Linked DNA regions of Homo sapiens: regions 2, 3 and 4 are each linked to region 1. Evidence: fine-mapped expression QTL. A gene starts in region 1. Each other region holds a variant in brackets. All regions are shown on one strand. Distances are between the middles of the regions.

The links. PIP is the estimated chance that this variant, and not a neighbour inherited with it, causes the effect.
Region 2: its variant is fine-mapped to the expression of DNAJB5 in whole blood (TOPMed, PIP 0.96).
Region 3: its variant is fine-mapped to the expression of DNAJB5 in whole blood (TOPMed, PIP 0.97).
Region 4: its variant is fine-mapped to the expression of DNAJB5 in whole blood (INTERVAL, PIP above 0.99).

Annotation. Positions count from the first base shown.
Region 1 is chr9:34,987,188-34,992,333 of GRCh38, forward strand. DNAJB5 (DnaJ heat shock protein family (Hsp40) member B5) reads left to right here and starts at 2,558. Exons shown (of 5, transcript NM_001349723.3): 1 at 2,558-2,644; 2 at 3,312-3,625. The coding sequence starts at 3,444. DNAJB5-DT (DNAJB5 divergent transcript) reads right to left here and starts at 2,192. Exons shown (of 2, transcript NR_109756.1): 1 at 1,972-2,192. RefSeq lists enhancers at 1,979-2,188, 2,743-3,672, 3,673-4,602 and silencers at 2,299-2,798, 2,313-2,461.
Region 2 is chr9:35,521,525-35,526,670 of GRCh38, forward strand. The region is part of intron 1 of RUSC2 (RUN and SH3 domain containing 2); the gene reads left to right. Among named protein-coding and RNA genes, the nearest start is that of RUSC2, 34 kb to the left of the region's middle. The variant A/T (reference allele first, on the strand shown) is at 2,305.
Region 3 is chr9:35,105,717-35,110,862 of GRCh38, forward strand. ATOSB (atos homolog B) reads right to left here. Exons shown (of 9, transcript NM_025182.4): 2 at 2,878-3,021; 3 at 1,665-2,633; 4 at 1,117-1,175; 5 at 822-927; 6 at 536-694; 7 at 225-293; 8 at 1-141. The coding sequence starts at 2,558. Among named protein-coding and RNA genes, the nearest start is that of STOML2, 5.2 kb to the left of the region's middle. RefSeq lists an enhancer at 3,611-3,755 and a cis regulatory region at 3,675-3,692. The variant A/G (reference allele first, on the strand shown) is at 3,230.
Region 4 is chr9:35,044,504-35,049,649 of GRCh38, forward strand. SPATA31G1 (SPATA31 subfamily G member 1) reads left to right here. Exons shown (of 2, transcript NM_203299.4): 2 at 1-1,483. The coding sequence ends at 1,366. It also overlaps the pseudogene RN7SL338P. Among named protein-coding and RNA genes, the nearest start is that of SPATA31G1, 4.8 kb to the left of the region's middle. The variant C/CA (reference allele first, on the strand shown) is at 2,223.

The sequences.
Region 1 (5,146 bases):
TAACTTGGTTGAGTTAACCAAGTTAACCATTGGTTGGGTATAAACTACATGCCCAGCTCAGAACTAAGTGCACTACCTGTGTTACCTTAATTAACCCTCTCAACAACCCCCTGAGGCACCAATCCCCATTTACAAAGGAGATGAGGCATGAGTGTGGCGTGTAAGCTCACAAGGTGCATAGACTCCAGACCACACTGTCACAGTCCATGCCACACTGAGCACTACACACACGTGACACCCAGGACAATGGGACTGAGGGCGGGAACCGAGGACTAGGCAAACAGTGGAGTCTGTGCCACCAACACCTGAAGGCACAGTTCTGCACCCTCAAAGGTCCGAGCCTACACTTTAGCATTAGCAGGGGCCAGGTAAAGGCTGGTGACTAAACTCTCTGCCTCCGTGTTGGCACAGGCAAGGCTGGGGGAGGCAAAAGAGACAGAACTGGAATAGGAAGAAGTAGAGCCACCCACAGCCTGGGCCCCACAGGTGTGGAGGTGGAAGAGTGAGAGCCCCCAGATCTGAGGAGCCAGCAGCGGTGCAGGGCCCCTCACCCCACCTTACCCATCTCTGTGTCACACAGAGATGTCCATCCCTCCTCCCTCCCCTCCCCCTTCCTCACTCCTCCTCACCCCATCTCTGTGCCTCATCCTTTCATTACTCACCCCTTCTTTCCTCATCCCTCACCCTGCCTTCCTGCCCCTCCCCAGCCCTTCTTTCCTTATCCCCCACCCTGCCTTCCCTCCCCTCCCCAGCCCTCCTTTCCTCTGCCCTCCTTACTCCCACCCTATGGCTCATCTGCCCCATGCCCCTCCCCTCCTCATCCCCCTCACCCCATCTCACCATCCTCTCACCACCCCCTCTCCCTACCTCCCCCCCTCAACCCCATTTCCTCAAATTCCTCATGCTCATTTCCCCACATTCATCACCCATCTCTGCTCCCCTCCTGGCCCCCAACCCCACTTCCTTTCCATCCTCCTTTCACCCCAAGTCTCTTTCTTCCTTCACACCTCATGCCCCTTTACCCTTGGGAGCCCCATAGTGACTCCTGGCATGAAGGTAGGTAGTGAAGAATCTACAGACATGACTCCAGGACCCTGGCACCCCCCCCCCGCCTTGCTCTGCTCTTGGCCCAGGTACTCAAGCTGCAGTTTCTAGCAAGACCTCATGGGTGTCCAAACTCTGTCTCTGGAAAATAGGAAAGAAAGAAGTAAAGGGGAGCTTCCGGCCTGACCCTTCTATCATCATCAACCCCCCAGCACTCCCCTCCCCCACTTCACCCCCAAATTACTCCCTCCCCACCCCCGCTCCCTCGAGCACAGATGGGCCTGGGAGACAGTGACGTGGGCGCCAGGCACCGTGTCTGCTGGAGTGGCGGCTTCCGCTGGCGACCGCCTCCGCAGCCCCGCCTGCTCCCTGCATCGGGGACACTGGGGCTGAGATCTAATGACTTAATGGGGGGTGGGGGAGACTAGAGATTCTGAGGGTGTTAAGGAAGGGGATCTTGGGGAGTGAGATGAAAGATGAAAGGGGAGAGCTAGGATAGGAGATCGGGGTGTAAAGAAAGAACCAAGAATAAGACAAAAGGGATCACTGCGGGAAGGAAGACAGGAGATCATCTAGGGCCAAGAAGGAAAGGGCTAAAACACAGGCACTCCAGGGGGAAGCAGGATGAGAGACTGATTAGAAGAGGGACTGAAATGGAGACCGCGGGGTCGCTGAAGAGGGGCGCGAGGATGAGGGGCTGTACAGAGGGTGGGCGGGGGAGATTCCTGGAGGCACCGGCCTGGGCAGAGCCATCCGTTTCCCTCGGGGGAGAGGTCCGGGGGGCTCTGAAACCCGGCATCCGTGGGGTCTGTTAGAGATTCCGTTAGGTCACATCAGGCCACCGCGGGGTCAGGATAAGGTAAAGCTAAATGAGGTCAGCTTGAGGTGGTTACACCGTTGGCTGAAAGGCGAGTAAGAAGTGCTGACCTTTTGGCCCCGGTCCAGGGACTACACCTCCCAGAGTGCACTGTTCTCTCCCTCTTGCCCCCCAATGAAGAAAGGAAAGAATGCACGGCCGCACGGCCAACTGGTGGGTACAGTTTTCCTTTAAGGCTGCCTTTGACGTCGCAAGGGTTCCAGAAGGTTCTCCTGGGATTCGAGCAGTGGCCAGTACGTCCCACCTTCTCAACCCGGAGATTGGACTAATATAGTTTGCCCCCGGGCTCGGGTCTGAGTCTCAGGCACGAACCAATAAAATCAAAGGGCGAGCGAGGTTGCCGCCCTCTGTCTTTTTCACCAATGGCACGACAAGATGGCAAAGAGGCGTGGTTGAGTGATCCCAGAGGGCGCCAATCAGATCCACACCAATCACTGCCTGGAATGTGTGCGCGTGTGGCCGGGTGACAGGGGCGGAGGATGGGCGGCTATCACCAAGCCGCTTGTTGAAAACTGCCCAATCACAGTGGAGGCTGAGCTGAGTGACAGGAAGACGGTTCAATGGGCGGCGCGGAGGCGGAGCCGTGGGGGCGGGCTCCCGGTCCCGCTATCGGCGGCCGGCGGGCAGGCGACTCCTGTCCCGGGTGGAGGCGGCGGAGCCGGAGCCGGGGGAGGGGGCAGCGGCTGTCTCACGGACCACGGCGGCGCCCGCAGCTCCTCACCGGTGAGGGCGCCAAGCCAGGACTCGGGGGTCCCGGGAGCGGGGCGTCGTGAAGCCAGGGCTCCTGGTGTTGGGGGGTTGGGACACTGAGGGCCCGTAGGCTCTGCTGCCTTGGGGATGCGGGGCCCCGGGGTCTGCAGGGTGCTCGGAGTCCTAGACCAGGGCTTGGCTGTCACAGGGGGCAGCCAGCGTCTGAGTCGGGGAGGGGAGGGGAGGGGAGGGTCGAGTCGGACCGGACCAGATTGGGTTCTGTGGGGCGGAGGCATCTGTGAGCAGACCAGCCAGCCAGCGCGGGTGACATCACCGACCACCCTCCCCCGCCCGAGCCCCCTCCCCTCCTCTCCTCGCCGCGCCTTTTGTCCCGGCCGAGCTCCGCTCTGCCCCGCCCATCTGCGAGGGAGGAGACTCCCGTCAGTGACTTCATTGAGTAGGTTCTTGGGGATTGGGGTCGGGTCCTCCCCAGTGAGAGGCGACAGGAGCTCACTGCCTCTCGGGCCCTCACAATCACACCTGTCACAGGTATACACGCTGCCACTCACAAACACACGCTTGCACTCCCAGCCTCACTGACACGCTGCCATACAGCCGCTCACAGCCAGCCAGACACTGCTGCACCTGAGAGCAGGTGGCCGCGGGTCTTCTCCCTTCACTCTCCACATTTGGGGATCAGGTCCGGCACCTGCTGCGCCAGACAGGCCTTGCTGGGCACGCGCCTCTGAGAGTCCAAGGAGGTGGCTTCCAGAGCTGCAGCACTTCAGGCCGGCTCCGGTGGAGCGATCAGAGGTGAGGGGCTTGGCTGGGCATGTTTAAGCGCACAGTGCTCTCCTGCCCACCCCCAGCAGCACCCCCACTGCAGGCCCGAGGAGCTTTCCGGAGCTTCCCACACTCCTGGGGAGAAGACTTCTTAGCCAGCTTGATGTTTAAAATTCAGCTGGAGCCCTTAAAACTTCGAGCGTGGACGCTGAATGGGTTTGTAAAGTTTCGGTAAGTCCCTCCGGAGAAGGGCACTCACACCCATACCCAGTCAAACCCTCCACGCGGCCATCCCCTCCATTGCCTTCCTGCTTCCTCCAACTCATCCTCATCCCCTCTGTGACATACAGGAACCCCCCTCCGGCCTCACCCACATATTTGAATGAATTGCACCCCTTATCATTCCTTTTCTCAAACCCTTCAGGTATCCATTTTCCACAGACATTTCCTCCATTATTTCAACTCTCCACATTCCTCCCTTTCAACCCATCATTAACCCATTTTCCACCTCAGCCATTTCCATCTGTCACTCATCCCCCTCCATCAGTACCTCATTTTCTGTATCAGCCATCTCCCCTCCCTGTACCTCAACAGTCCCCCTCGCCATTTTCTCCCCATTTTTCCTTCCTGCCTCTACCTTAACATCCTCCTCATTCTTCTCCATCAAAGGCAGTGCCATGCCATGGGGCTCCTTTGTCATTCCAACACGTGGCCTGTGGGTAGGGGGGAAGGGAAGGAGGGAGGAAAGCAGAAAGAGAAAAAGGAGGCAGATCCTGAAAGAGCTTGCCCTGTGTCTGCGGAGGCAAGAGATGTATGGGCCTAGAGCAGCTAGCAGGTGGGTACCAGGGAGGAAGCTGGCCGGGTGTGGAGGTAATGCAGGGACACCAAAAGGAGGTGGGTGGTTGGTGAGCCGTTCCACTGGCCCTCTGCCTGGAAGCTGCTCTCGTTCTCTAGGGGCACCCTCTTGGTGTGCTAGGGTTCTTTCCCAGTCCCAGGGGAAAGAAGGTGTGGGTTGAGGCAGAAATGGCAGACCACCCCCCCCCGCTCCCTCTCAGACGGCTTTTGCTGCCATTTCCGAAAACGGTTGCCCCCCCCCCCAACGAGGTGCTCTTTCTTCTCTGCCTCTCCCAACCCCACCCCCCACCCCATCTCCCCCACAGACGTGACATGCTGGTGGGGGGCAATGGGGGAGTACCCGCCTTTGTGGAGCCTTTTCTTCGTCAGAGAAAGGTGACTCCCAGAACCATGAGTCAACCCAGCCACCTGCAGCAGGGCCTGTGGGGGCAGCAGTGAGGGCCATTGTCCCTGCCCACCTAGGGCCTTGGGCGCCTCCCCCTTACCCGGTTACAGGCCTCACTCCTGGAAGGACACCCTGTACACCTCCCTGCTGTGAAGCAGTCAGAGGCAGAAAGGCAGGTCTCAGCTGTGGCTGCCAGCCTAGGACATTGCTAGAAAGACTCTGGTTCTCCTGGCTTTGGCAGGGGTTGGCCAAGTCTCAGAAGGGCTGAGAATGGCTTCTGGCCATCCCCCAGAGAGCTCTAGCTACAGGAAAGTCCCCCTTCCCCTGATATCCACCACAGACACACCGATAGAGGGAGACTGGAATGGAAGAATTCGGGTTGTACGTTTCTCTTATAACAAATGCTCCTGCACCCACCTTAAAAGGGACTCAGAGGAATATGGGTCTGATGATGGGCCGGATCCTAAACCACAGGGTGGACTGGGGGCGTAGGGTGAGGCTAGGAGAGGTAT
Region 2 (5,146 bases), 530 kb after region 1:
ATTGGAGCCTTGGGCGCCTGGGGTCTTTTACCTTTTAGGCTGCTAAGCCCATTCTACTTCAGAGCCAAGCCTCTTCTGGAATGTTTGTCTTTGACTTTTGGGGGTGGACGTTTAGCTGAACTTTTCTACAACATATGTGAGAAGCCAAAAGCAAACCAAGTTCTGTGCTTCGAAAGAGGACTCTATATTAAGGAAGCCTAATAAGGCAGCAACTGGTGTGTCTGGGACAGCCCTTCAGGCTAGGCCCTTTCAACACACTCCCAGCATGCCGTCTGGCCTCACTTGGAGTCCAAAATAACATGATACGAGTTAGAAACAGTGGCCTCCTCAGCTAGCAGCAGCTACACTCTACTTGGAGGAAAGACAGATGACCTCCTGGGCATTGGCTGCTATTCCATTTATGGAATCAGACTCCTGATGCCATAGCCAGGTGCTCTCAGCATCTAAGAACTTGTTTATTCTCTCTTTACAGTTCAGTCCTAGACACCCACAGGAATCACTGTTACCACCAGTTCTGAAATCTCCAAATTCTTTGAGCCTCTCTCACACATTTCACAGAGAAGTACTTGTCCTATAGGAAACTCAGAGCCTCCATCTAATCTCATGGCAAGGGTGGAGGGTAGCTGACTTTCCAAATTCGTGTACAAAGTTTATTTCTGTTCTGGGAAGTTAGGTTTGCTATTGGTGAAGTTAATCAACATCTGTTTACAAACATTTGATTTGGGAGGCATGAAAAAAGAGAGATGTTTCTGTCAGTTAATTATTTCACTCCCCATATCTCTAACTCCCAACAAACTATGGTCAGTTCTGCCTTTGCCTAGGGTTCCCTGGAGGTGCCTCTGGGGCCCCCCACAGTAAGGAGAGGGAATTGGAGTGCATGGGGCATTAGGCCTCCTCTGCTTCAACCAGGGTAGCTGTTTTATGTATTGGGGCTGAAAAATTAAAAGCATTGCTCTAACCCTTACACCCTGAAACTTTCTTTTTGCTGTTCTGGCCTCCAGAGGCATATTGGCAATTATTTTAACAAAATTATGAGCCCCTCAAATTGGGCTATTACCCCTGAACATCCAGCATAGCTCCTTATACACAGGAAGAATACAGTAGATGCTTGTGGCTTGATTGCTTGCTTGATTAATTGGCTCACAAGATGATATTAATTGATAGCCTCAGGATAATTCTAGATCAGAGAATAGAGTACAGTATGTAATAATTTATTTTGATTTGTTATGGTTTGAGCATTTCTGACCTTTGCTACTGGAATCAATCATGCAGTCTGAGGTGAAAACTTAGCCAAAAGGAATTACCTTAACTGAGGTTGTCGCTGTTGGAGAGGATACCCAGTAAGTCAGCACAAACAAAAGTACCTTCTGTTGATTTCCAAAGATTTGTATGATTTCAATCCACCTCTGTCCCTGGTGTACTGAGGTGAAAGGTCAGCAGAGTGATTATTGGGAAGACCAGGCATAGAGGTATACTAAAATCATATAGTCCTGTCTATTGATTAGTACTGCTTACTTTTGCTAAAAATTACCTTCTTGGACAGTTCCCAAAACTACTCATTGTCTTGATTGTGGGAAATGCAAAACTTTTCTCTGCTAAGCTATACTTATTAACAACATCTAAACTGTTTATCTGCAGCCTGCATTATACATCTGCATATCTTTTGTGAGGGTGGCTTTGTTTTTAATTAGCTTATATGTTTTATAAAATTATAATGTTTTTTATAAAGCTAAATAACAGGACATAAGTGAAAAAAGCAGCCACATTCAAATAAAGTCTGCCAGTTCAGTTAATTGTAATGTACTCAATGTTAATTGCTTTGTTTTAACAAATGTACCTTGATTACGTAAGATGGTAACATTAGGGAAACTGGTTAAAAGAGGTACAGGAACTCTGAACTATCTTTGCAACTTTTTATAACTGTAAATTATTCCAAAATAAGTAGTTAGCTTTTAAAAATTCATACACAGCAATAAAGGTCTTCACAATGAAAAAAAAAGCCAAATAGTGGCTGGGCGTGGTGGCTCATGCCTATAATCCTGTCACTTTGGGAGGCTGAGGTGGCTGGATCCTTGAGCCCAGGAGTTTGAGACCAGCCTGGGCAACATGGTGAAACCTTGTCTCTACAAAAAATACAAAAATTAGCCAGGCATGGTGGTGCATGCCTGTAGTCCCAGCTACTCAGGAGGCTGAGGTGGAAGGATGGCTTGAGTCCAGGAAGTGGAGGTTGCAGTGAGCCAAGATAGGGCCACTGCATTCCAGCCTGGGCAACAGAGGGAGACTCCATCTCAAAAAATTAAAAAA[A/T]AAAAATAAAAATTTAAGCCAAATAGTGCCAAATCTGGGGCAGTCTGAACATCAAAATCAGTAATGGATTATGACCCACTGACTTTTTAAAATCCAGGGGTCCATATTTATCCTAAATCAATAAATTAAGAAAGGAAGGAAAAGGGAAATCTTTATTATGTTAGAATGCCAACTAATCAATGTAGAAGGAATAATAGAAAATTGTCATTTTTTGGCCAGGCGCAGTGGCTCATGCCTGTAATCCCAGCACTTTGGGAGGCTGAGGTGGGTGGATCACTTGAGGCCAGGAGTTTGAGACCAGCTTGGCCAACATGGTGAAACCTGTCTCTGCTAAAAATACAAAAAATTAGCTAGGCATGGGGCACATGCCTGTAATCCCAGCACCTCAGGAGGCTGTGGGAGACGGAGGTTGCAGTGAGCCAAGATAGGGCCACTGCACTCCAGCCTGGGCAACAGGGTGTGACTCTGCCTCAAAAACACAAAACAAAACAAACCTGTCATTTTTCAACCATCATAGTAAATAACTGATTCAGATGAAACTCATCAATGGATGCTAAAATGATTGGATGAAAGTTTGATGGGAACAGGTTATTTATCTAATCTAAAAGTAATCTCTCCATAGATTGCTTATTAATTAGAGGAGAAAATGATAACTTTACAATGGAGAAACCTGACAGACACTATCTTAACGAAGGACTAGTTCAAAATTAGCATCATCAATAAAGTGATAAAATGACCTCATGTGTTGGGTTTTGTCTTGTTTTGTTCTGCATTATGTGTTTCTCCCAGACTCCTATTTTATGTTTTTGTTGTACTCTTTGTTTTCTGTTGGAGGCTGCCCTCAAAAGTCTGGTGATCCCAGGCCGGGTGCAGTGGCTCACGCCTGTAATCCCAGCACTTTGGGAGGCCGAGACGGGTGGATCACAAGGTCAGGAGATCGAGACCATCCTGGGTAACACGGTGAAACCCCGTCTCTACTAAAAATACAAAAAATTAGCCGGGCGTGGTGGCGGGCACCTGTAGTCCCAGCTACTCGGGAGGCTGAGGCAGGAGAATGGCGTGAACCCGGGAGGTGGAGCTTGCAGTAAGCCAAGATCGCACCACTGCACTCCAGCCTGGGGGACAGAGCGAGACTCCATCTCAAAAAAAAAAAAAAACTCTGGTAATCCCTTGGCTACTGATATAAAAATGAGCCATTTAAAAACACTGGAGGTTCTGTGAGAGTGGAAAGATATATCAACTGGCAAACTTGTCTGGTGGGCAGGTGGAACAGGCTGGCCTTTTTTTGTGTGGGGAAACCCCCAGAGAATTTGACATTCTTTTCTCTGAGGTAGTTCAGTTTCTGCAGAGAAATAATCTACCAGGGGTAGGGTGGGATAAATAAGTCTGGCTGTTGGTATTATCCTGAAATAGAAGGAAGAAGTCTAGCAATTCTTTGGAGATTTTCACCTAACCCCTCAGTTTTCAGATTGGCCTCTCATCCTGCTTTCTTCCATGCCTTGTTTTCCAGAGTCGAATGCAGTTCCACTCAAAGTTCTCCAGAAATAAATCTCCAGTAATCCTGAGGAGCAGGAGACCAGTGGTCTCCTGACAGTGTAGGGTTGTTGGTGGGGACTGGGTGTCTAATTACTTCTTCTACAAACTTTAACCAACATCCCTATTTTTTTTTTTCCTTTAAAAAGAATTTTTGGTCGAGCACGGTGGCTCATGCCTGTAATCCCAGCACTGTGGGAGGCCGAGGCAGGCGGATCACCTGAGGCCAGGAGTTCGAGATCAGCTGGCCTACACGGCAAAACCCCGTCTCTACTAAAAATACAAAAATTAGCCTGGCGTGGAGGCACACTCCTGCAGTCGCAGCTACTCGGGAGGTTGAGGCAGGAGAATTGCTTGAACCCAGGAGGTGGAGGTTGCAGTGAGCCGAGATCGCACCACTGCACTCCAGCAAGCCTCAGCCACCTTTAAACATATTTTTTAGGCCAGGTGTGGTGGCTTCTGCCTGTAACCCCAGCATTTTGTGAGGCCTAGGTGGGCGAATTGCTTGAGCTCAGGAGTTTGAGACCAGCCTGGGCAACATGAAACCCTATCTACCAAAAAAAAGAAAAGAAATACAAAAATTAGCTGGGCGTGATGGCACGTGCCTGTAGTCCCAACTGCTTGGGTGGTGGCCATGCAGAGTGAGTTCCTAGCATTTTAACAGTGCTTTATATTTCTATAAAATGGTCAGTTTACAGAGCACTTTCATGTACTGTTTTGAATAGACCACTGTTCAGATCTATAGTAGGGGGCATATGTTTCCCCTAAGCCTTCAACTCCCCATAAAGTAGCCTGGTCCAGGCACAGGAAGACTCAGTAACCAATGTTTATATTCATGCCTGCTTTATTTTGAGCACCCTGGATCTCTCTATTGCTTATGAAAGCTGCCCAGACCACTACTGAGTTCTGGAAGATGCTGGGATTGAGGAGTGGGGAAAGGTATCCATATCCAGTCTTTTCATGTTTCTCCAAGGTTACCGTCCTATTTTGGTCAGAATTGTGTAATCTCCTTTGTGGGGGTTTTGGATATTAACCAACATCTTATCACTTGATAATAGTATCACACTTACTGGGTATTTACTGTATGTCAGGCACAATTTAAGTGCTTGATAGTATTAATTCACTTAATGTTGGTGGTATTTTCATCACCATTCTACAGGAAATGGGGGCAGGGAAAGGCAAGATAACTGGCCTAGGATTACACAACACTCAAACAGATATTACCTCATCTTGTTAACTATTAAATGTATTGCATTCAGATTTTACTTGGTGTGGGGTACAGTGGCTCATGCCTGTAATTCCAGAGCTT
Region 3 (5,146 bases), 120 kb after region 1:
GGGGTTAGCATTTCCCTCCTCACCCACAGGCACCAAAAAGAGGCGATGGCGCAGGAAGGTCATGTGGGCAGCAGGCATGTCCGAGAAGTCAAAGGTCACAAGGAACATCTTTACCACAGTCTGGTTGGGGTTAAATAAGGTCTAGGGACAGGACAGTCAAGGTTGGTAGGGCCTGAGGGCTGCTTTCCTCTCTCCCCACTCCCACTCCCTCAGGGCAAACTCACCACTTGGACGGTGCCCACCTTGGGCACGCTGTAACCCTTCCTCCCCAAGGGGTTCAGATCCACGATGCCCTGGAAGGCCAGGGAGCCATCAGTCAAGGTGGGGACTAGGAAAACCCTGGGCCCTAAACACATGTCCCTCTCCACAAGCTCTCACCCTGAACCTGCCCCTGCCCTACAGTAGAGTTCTCCTCACCTGGCCCTGACTCACTTCTAGGTGAGGAATAAGTAAGAAATACCTCTTGCCCCCTGGCCCCGCCCCCAAATCCTCATCCTCTTGATGAGCTGACTTTGGGGTTGGAGTCAAGGCATACCAGGAAGGGAGCCGGGGCATTTTGCTCAGAAACATCAAAGAATGTGACAGTGACAGGCAGCGTGACGTGCTGGGGGCAGTATGACCCACTAGCTCCAATTTCTGCTGTGAAGCCCTCAATGTGGCCAGATGGTGCAAAACGTCCTCGCAGCAATGATTCCTGGGATTAGGGTAGGGAAAACACATGAAGAGAGAGATGCCAATTCTTTTCCTTATCCATCCAAGCCACATTCCACCATCCCACCTCTCCCAGGACCCCGGCAATCACAAACCCCAACGGGAGCTACCTCAAAGTTGCCCAGCAGGGTACGGCTGACAGCAGGGGTAGGAACAGGGGAGGCACTGGGGGGGCTCAGCAGGCCTGGCCCCTTCCGGAGGCTTCGAAGGGGGCTCCTGGTAGAGGAAGGGAAACACAGGGGGTTGGCTTGAGGTATTCTGGGATTCCTGCTTATGCCCTTGGACTCCACCCTCTGCCACTATGTAGGGCTTCTGCCCTGGGGTCCCCTACTCGGATGCTGGAAAGAGTACAGACTTCTGCCCCCATTCTCAGGGACAGGGTAGAGGAAAAAGCTGGTCACTTACAGCTTCAGGCGACGGGCTCCTTTCAGCCTCCGCCCCATGGGACCGCAGTCTGTTGGGTCCTACGGAGAGAAATGATTGGGAAAAGACACAGGGTGAAGGCCATGTATGTTTTGGGGCAGAAGCTCATCACAAACTCTCAAAGGAACACCCTGCCCCCCAGGCCTCCACCTTTACCCACACAAATATCCACTTAAGAGTACATGAAGGACAGGCGCAGTGGCTTGAGCGCCTGTAATCACAACACTTTAGAAGGCCAAGGTGGGTCGATGATTTGAGCTCAGGAGTTCGAGACCAGCTTGGGCAACATGGCGAAACCCCATTTCTACCAAAAATACCAAAAATTAGCTGGGTGCAATGTCATGTGCCTGTGGTCCCAGATACTTGGGAGGCTGAGGTTGGAGGATCCCTTGAGCCTGGGAGGAGGAGGTTGCAGTCAGCTGAGATTGTGCCACTGCACTCCAGCAGTGATGGAGTGAGATCCCATCTCAAAAAAAAAAAAAAAAAAAAAAAAGTAAAAAAAGAGTAAATGAGGTCCTTTATTGGCTTACCAAAACAGGCTCTTTGGGCCCAGGCAGCAGGTGGCTCCAGAAGGGTGTGGCTTTGGCATCAGAACTGTTGGCAGCAGTAGGGTGGCCCAGGGATCCCCGGCGCCTCCGAGGGGCTGGCCCCTCTTCCTCAGAGCTGACATCTGGGGCTTCTCCAGCAGGAAGCAGCCTTCGCTTGGTGGGGCAGGGGCCTGGGGGTCCAGGGCCAGGGGGTGTGTGCTCGGGACTGTGCCCATTGGCAGTGCCAGGGGACTCCCTAGGCCAGAGGCTACCCCCATTGCCCACCCCAGCCACTGGGCTCTTACCCCCTATTTGTGCAAGACTGTGCAAATCAGTGTCAAGTGTGTGCAGCTGGCCTGGAGGGGCTGGCCCTGGGGACTCCCCCAGGGACCCCTGTCCCCCTGGATCTGGGGAGGCCCAGTCTCTGGTGTGCAAAGTATTGCAGGAAGCATTTGATGGGGGGCAGGGGGGACTCCAGGCCCCCGAAGTCCAAGATGAGGTGACACTACTTCTCTGTTCCACAACACAGAGGCCACGGTGGGAGAAATGCTGGCTGGCCACACCTAGTCCCAGCCCCGGTCCCTCTGGGCCTAAGAGCCCCACAGTAGATGGTTCTTCAGGGGGTAGTCCCTCTCTGGCCCCCAGCCCAGGGCCTCTCTTCAGCTCCCGGGGACCCTCAGTGGATGGGGCTTGTCGTTTCAGGGCCCTATGAGGCTCAGAGGTACCAGCCGGAGGGGAAAAGATGGATACCTGGTAGACCCCGGGGGATGTCGCCCCCCCTGCTGGGCTGTAGCCCATGAGCAGGCCACCCTGGAGGGCCCCCTGCCTGACTGGAGGCTGTGAAGGGCCAGCCTCCGGCTCTGAGGATGGAGACGGCTCCGCCTGCACGTGGCGCATGAAGCCCCCCTTGGGTCAGGGGGGCCCCCCAACACGGCCTTTATGCTGGGCCTGGGCTGGGGGGCCTGGGGACATCTGTGTAAGAGAAGAGAAGAAAAGGTGGTCAGGGGAATCAATGAGTCTTCTTCCTTCCAGCTGAGTTTCAGACCCTCTCCTTGCCTAAAGGGGTGACTTTGATGGGTTCCCAAGGATGAATGTGTACAAATCCCTGGATGGACTAATGGAATATAGAGACCACTCTCAGAACTCCTGAGAGGGTGACAGGTTTAGCTCAGGCTTCTTACTGGACACACTTCCCCCTCTTCTCCCTGGTACTTACCCCGATGAAGAGGCCTCAAGCCTAGCTGTGCGTCCCCTCTTCCCAACTGATGCCTCGTGCCCCTAGCTTGCAGTCTGATCCATGCCTGCTGCACTGGCAAGGTGACTGCCACCATTCCGTGCAGCTCCTGAGCTCAGCAGGACCCTGAGGAGAGAAGAACAGACGTAAGCCAGGATCACTGGAGCCAGCGGTAAGGCCTGTCACCAATTATAGGCTAATAGTACACTCCAGGACATCCTTCTCCCATGTGAGAGGCTCTTCAGGAACAGAAAGGGTAGGCTTGGGGTCCAGGGCACAGATGGCAGAGTTGGGCTACCTAAGGAGTCAAAGAGGCAGGTCTTGGCTCAGTATA[A/G]TAAGGATGTGACAAGTGAGTTGAGGTAGAATAACTACTTGTCAGGGCCACCATTTGAGGACTCCTGCCCTACATGGAGGAAGGGATGAGAGACCCCCAAGATCCAAGAGACCGTGTCAGCTGAGAGGCGGCCAGGGGAAGAATTCAGCTTTCTTACTCAAAGCCACCAAATTGCACAACTCCTTCTTATATGTCTATCTCCAAAGGGACAAGTGCCATCCTAGGGCACTAAGGGCAGAGGTCTCCCACACAGTTATACCCCATCAGCGGTCCTCAGAGGTACAAATTTCAAGTCAGCTCAGAGCTGGCCTTTCAGCCCTGAACTCCAAATTGCCTCCAGCAGCCTGTCTCTTTAACAAGAGGCAACAAATCCGACCAAAAACAAGAAGGGGAAGGGGAAGGGGTCACTGCCAGAAGGCACTTTCCAGGGCCCTCCCGCAAGGCCCTGCAAACTAGAGATAAGGCCGCAGCAGTCAGTCAGCTGGAAGCAACTAGGGAGTACCTCTCCACGCCCCTCCCCCAGTGCTCACACACCCAACACCAAAACCCCAAACCACGGGTGCATAAGATGGTCTTCACTAACTATTCCAGCCCATACTAGGGTGAGGGGAATGTCAAGTTGAAAGCCAGCTGCCCCCAGGGTCAGCCTTCTCTTTTGCTGTCTGACATTCACGGTGCTCTTTCCCCTTCAAGAAGTGCCCTTTGAATGCCTACCCAAGACTTTTCCTCCTTGGATAGGTCAAATGCCATCTCCTCCAGAAAGTCTGCTCTGTCCACCCCAGACCATAAGCATCTCTCCCTTCTCTGAGACCTCACCTATGGCAGTGTTACTACTTCCTGTAAGCTCACTAACAGTTCTGCTCACTCCTGTGGGTAAGGCATCTTCTAGACCGACCATAGAGTTCCTGAGGACAGATCTGTGTCCCACCCCTCCATCCAACCCCAAGTACAGGGGTAAGCACACAGCAGGGCTCAAAAAAAGTAGAATGCAAGTCCCAGACATCTGAGCAGCAGTCCTGAGAGTGGAGAGAAAAATTTCCCAGATGAGAGAAGCAGAGAGATTAATTGTACAAGGGAAAATCAGGAACAGAGGTGGGGGTGGGGAGCAGGCAGAAAGGAGAGATTTGTACCCAGGGACTGAAAAGCTCTCCTACACCAAGTTCCCATCATTGTACCCCACTATCCCATTTCACCAAATTCTCCTAAGAATTGGGATCCCTAAGAAAATCCTGGTTCCCTGTGGTGGGCGGGATGGCTGGAAAGGGCAGAACACCAATCGCAACCTGCACTATCCTACCTGCAACCAACCTTGTCAGAAGGTACAACCTGCACTAATTTCTACCCTTCTTTCCTCCACCCAAGCCATACAGATTCAGGAGGGGCCTTTTCCCTAGCACCACCACTTCCAGGTCATCCCAGTTGCCCTCTTGACCCCTTGCCCTGGGGAAGCCAGGGGATGACATGATGCCCTACTTGACCCCAGCATACCTGGCATCTGCTTATTAACCCCAGAGCCCTCTCAGTTCCCACCCTGTCAACAAGACGCTCTATATTCACTCCCCTGCCACCCAGCCAGTCTGGCTCTAGACCATGGCTTCAAGCTGACTCATGGGGCAGGACTGCAGGGGAGGGGGGCAGGGCAGAGTAGGCCAAGCCTCACTCTTCGTTCAGGGGGTGGGCAGCAGCTGGCATCAAACAGCTGTGCCAGGCTGTGGCTGGCAAGGACTACAGCTCCCAACATGCTGAGGGAGCAAGGCCAGCAAAAACAACAAGTCCCAGAATACGTCTGTACCTTTAGACACTTTTGAGGCCTGGGAGGTGGGTGAGGTGGGTATTGGTATAGGTATCAGCTTCAAGGCTCATTCTCCCCTTCCCTTCAGTATTAAAGATTTCCATTTCTACCATGATCAAGGAGAG
Region 4 (5,146 bases), 57 kb after region 1:
TATTGTAGGGGAAATGGAGCAAAAAGAAAACTGTGTTCCTGTGTTCCCAGGTAGGGGCTCCAGCCCATCCTCAAACTCTGTTTCAAAGTCCCACGTAAGTGAGCCTATCGCAGACCAAAGCAACTATAAGCCTGACGGGGAGGCAGTGGAGCAAAGAAAGAACCACTGGGCCACTGAGCTCCCAGCCCCCAGCTCACTCTCTACTCCTCTACCAGAGCCACACATTGACCTTGAACTTGTGTGGAGAAATGTGCAACAAAGAGAAGTTCCCCAAGGCCCCAGCCCTCTGGCAGTGGATCCCCTACACCCAGTACCCCAGCCTCCCACCCTAGCTGAAGCTGTGAAGATTGAACGCACTCATCCTGGTCTACCCAAGGGAGTAACGTGCCCAGGGGTTAAGGCAGAGGCCCCACTCTCCCAGAGATGGACTGTCCCAGAGTTGCTCACCCATCCTGGGATCCATGCCTGGCAGTGGAGTAGAGAGCTGAAACTCAGGCTGAAGAAACTGCGGCAGAGCCCTGCCTCCAGAGCCCCTGGCCCAAGTCAATCATTTTGCAGCTCCCCTATTCTGAGCTCCACAATTCCAGACTTCTGGGGACTCCCTTCCTGCCCACCACAGCAGATTTATCCCCCCAATCCATGCCCCCACTCTTCAAGTTGTCATCCTCAAGAAGTTCAGCGCACAGTACCTCAGCCTGTCCAGTCCTCCCACTGTCATCACTTCCAATCCTCTTCCCAGCTTCAGCCACAGGAGTCTGGCAGGGCGGAACAAGGGTCTCAGAGAGGGGAGAAAATGAAGGGGAAGATGGTGAGCCAGGTCCCATCCCAAGGGCCATGTGTACACATGGAGGCTGGTGTGGACTATCTATCTCCAGGCCCAGGAGAACCCTCAAACTCTAAGGTTCTGGTCTCAGGCAAGAGAAAGGACAAGGCTTCAGCCTCATCCTCAGCCAAAAAGAGAGAGCACCCTAGGAAACCCAAAGCAGGAGACCATAGAAGAGGGACTGCAAGGTTGGGGTTATCCACAGTCACAGGGAAGAACCACCCTGCCCAGGCCAGAAGCCTAGTAGAGGCCCCTGTAAGCACATTTCCCCAAAGGTCTCAACACAGGGGCCAGAGCTCTCAACACACTGCTCTTCCCCAGCTGCTTCTCCCCAAAGCTTCGGGTCCCCAGGATCAGCCAGAGGCAGGGCGAAGAGCAAGTGACATCCTGACCCCTCGCCACTGTAAGCACTGTCCTTGGGCCCACATGGAGAAGTATCTCTCCTTCCCTACCCTCAAGGCTTCCCTTACCAGGGGTTTGCAAAAGGTGTTAGCCAAATGCCTGGATAACCATCGACCCCTACCCACCAAATCTAGTCAGTAGAGAAAAGGCTGGTAATACTAGCACTTGGTATGCCAAGACCTGAAGCCAAACCAGGGGGAAGGTGGGGATGTGGAGACAAGAAATGGAAATTCTAATAAACTAGCTGAATTAGATAAATCCCATTCATGTCTTCTTTGGAATCTAGGGTACTGAAAATGTCAATTCCCAATTCTGCTACAGCCATAGCCCCTCAGTTTCAAGTCCCAGTAGAGCACTCAGGATTCTGCAGGCTTAACTCTTTTGTGGATCTTCACAGATGATCACATCTGGAGTCCACACATCCCTACTCTATAGGGTGAGGCTACAGGGCCAGGTCAGCATAGCCCAAAGCCGCCCTTGAGAGGGAACGACTTCACAGCATGTGAACAAAAAACTACATCCATTCACACGAGCACAGGTCATCTGAGTCTAGGCAACTGTGCTTTGTCCTGGGTATTGTTCTCTTCTTCATCCACTTGACCTGTAAGTTCTCCACGTATCTTTCTGACCATTTCTTCTCAGCCCTCTGCTCTTTTCTCTCCCTGGGTCAGCTCATCCATCTCCAAGGCCATGAAAACAAGTGTCTTTTAATACGTCTAGTAACCGTCTGGATTTCTATAATCACCGGGTCATATCCTCTACCCATTTTCTAATGCACTATTTGTTGGACATTGTATTAGTCAATGTATTACAGTTTTCTACTGCTGCTGTAACAAATTACCACAAAACAAATTTATTTTGTCAGAAGTCTGACACGGAGCCTGGGTGCAGTGGCTCACATCTGTAATCCCAACACTTTGGGAGGCTGAGATGGGCTGATAGCATGAGCCCAGAAGTTTGAGACCAGCCTGGGCAACATGACAAAACCCTGTCTCTA[C/CA]AAAAAAAAAAAAACAAAAAAACCACAAAAATTAGCTGGGCATGGTGGTGCATGCCTATAGTCCCAGCTACTGGGCAAGGTGAGGTGGGAGGATCACCTGAACCAGAGAGGTCAAGGCTACAGTGAGCCACTGCACCACTACATGCCAGCCTGGGCAAAAGAGACCCTGTCTCCTCCCCGCAAAAAAAGTCTGACACATGTCTCACAGGGCTAAAATCAAGGGGTTGGCAGGCCTACATCCTTTTCTCTAGGCTCTGGGTAGGATTCACTCCTTGCCTTTCCCAGTTTCTAGAGGCTGCCCACATTCCTTGGTTACTGACCCCCTTCTTCTATCTTTAAAGCTAGCAAAGGCAAGTCAAGTTCTTCTCACATTGTATCACTCTGACCTCTTCTGCCTCCCTCTTCCACTTTTTTTTTTTTTTTTTTTTTTGAGATGGAGTCTCGCTCTGTCTCCCAGGCTGGAGTGCAGTGGCACGAACTCGGCTCACTGCAAGCTCCGCCTCCCAGGTTTTATGCCGTTCTCCTGCCTCAGCCTCCCGAGTAGCTGGGACTACAGGTGTGCACCACCTACGCCGGGCTAATTTTTTTGTATTTTTAGTAGAGACAGGGTTTCACCATGTTAGCCAGGATGGTCTCGAACTCCTAACCTCGTGATCCGCCCGCCTTGGCCTCCCAAAGTGCTGGGATTACAGGCGTGAGCCATTTTTTTTTTTTTTTTTTTTGAGACAGAGTTTCACTCTTATCACCCACGCTGGAGTGCAATGGCACAATCTCGGCTCACTGCAACCTCTGCCTCCTGTGTTCAAGTGATTCTCCTGCCTCAGCCTCCTGAGTAGCTTGGATTACAGGCATGCGCCACCACGCCTGGCTAATTTTGTATTTTTAATAGAGATGGAGTTTCTCCATGTTGGTCAGGCTGGTCTCAAACTCCTGACCTCAAGTGATCCACCCGCCTCGGCCTCCCAAAAAGTGCTGGGATTACAGACATGAACCACTGCGCCCGACCCTACCTCTTCCACTTTTAAGGACCCTTATGATTACACTGGACAAAGCTGAATAATCCAGGACACCCTTCCAATTTAAAGTCAGTTGATAGCCAGGCGCAGCAGTGGCTCATGCCTTAACAGTCCCAGCATTTCAGGAGGCCAGGGCAGCTGGATCGTTTGCGGCCAGGAGTTCAAGACCAGTCTGGCCAATATGGCAAAACCCCATCTCTACTAAAAATACAAAAATTAGCCTGGCATGGTATGTGTGCCTGTAATCCCAGCTACTCCGGAGGTTGAGGCAGGAGAATCGCTTGAACCCAGGAGGCGGAGGTTGCCAAGATCATGTCACTGCACTCCAGCCTTGACGACAGAGCAAGACCCTGTCTCTAAATAAATAAATGAAGTCAGTTGATTAGCAACCTTAATTCCACCTGGAACCTTAATGCCCCTTTTTCCATGTGAAATAATATATACATAGGTTCCAAGGATTACGACGTGGGCATCTTGAGGGCCATGATCCTGCCTACAGAGATAGTGACCCAAACTATTATGTATGTTCCAAATATTTTCTTCCAATTTGTATCTTATTGGCTAATTTTATGGTGACTTCTATTGTATCAAAGAAAAATTTTTTTATGTAGTTAAATCTACCAACACTTTACTTCATGACTTCTAAAACATTTTCTCCTGGCACTTTGATAATTTTGCATATTTATGTTTTAGATTACCGATTTTTATGGTATGAGGTGATAATCTAACCTTCCCCAAAATCATGTCCAATTTACCAATACCATTTTTTAAAAATAGAATGTCTTGAGCCCATTCCATTAAATATGGTGTATTGTAAAAACATGAGTCATTTCTAAGCATCTCTAGGCTTCAGGTCCCCATATTCAACAGCATACCAGACATTATCTCATATTTGACTTGTCCAAAAACGTATTTTCCCTTTAACTTTTTCCTCCAACACGCCCATTCCTATCAAAATGCATGACATCCACCTAAATACTTAAGCTTTGACTCTTCCTTCCTCCCTGATCTAAGCCATCACCAAATCTTGTCAGCCAGGCTCAGTGGCTCATGCGTGTAATCCCAGCACTTTGGCAGGCCGAGGTAGGAGGATCATTTGAGGTCAGGAGATCGATACCAGCCTGGGTGGTACCCCATCTCTACTAAAAACACAAAAATTAGCCGGGTGTGGTGGTGTGCACCTGTAATCCCAGCTACTTGGGAGGCTGAGGCAGAAGAATTGTTTGAACCAGGAGGCGGAGGTTGCAGTGAGCTGAGATCATGCCACTGCACTCCAGCCTGGGCAATAGAGCAAGACTCCATCTCAAAAAAACAAAACAAAACAAAACAAAACTTGTCAATTATACCTATGAAATGTATTTCAAATCCATCTTCCCCTCTCCATTTCCACCATCACTATTGTCTTAGTCATTATTTCTCACTAAATTGGTTGCTCTATTCCTTCTAATCCATCCTGCACATGGCTACAATTCTCTGGAGATCAACTGCCCCGATCTCTTCAACAAGTGTCATAAAAGTTTGAGTAAAAGGCTAGGGGTGGTGGTACATACTTATAAGCCCAGCTACTTGGGAGGCTGAGGCAGGAGAATCCCTTGAGCCCAGGATGTAGTGTGCCATGACGATTGGGAACCGAATGATGCTAAGTTTGGCATCAATAATGGTGACCTTCCAGAAGTGGGGGACCACCAGTGCCTAAGAAGGGGTGAACTGGCCCAGGTGGGAAACACAGCAGATAAAATTCCTGCACAGATCAGTAGCGATATAGCACCCGTAAATAGCCACTACACTCTTAGCCTGAGCAACAGAACGAAACCCTGTCTCTTATTTTTCAAAGTTTGAATAAAGGAATCTAACAGATGCCAACTTGTGGACCTAGGTTAGATATTGGTTTGGTCCAAATAGCTGTGA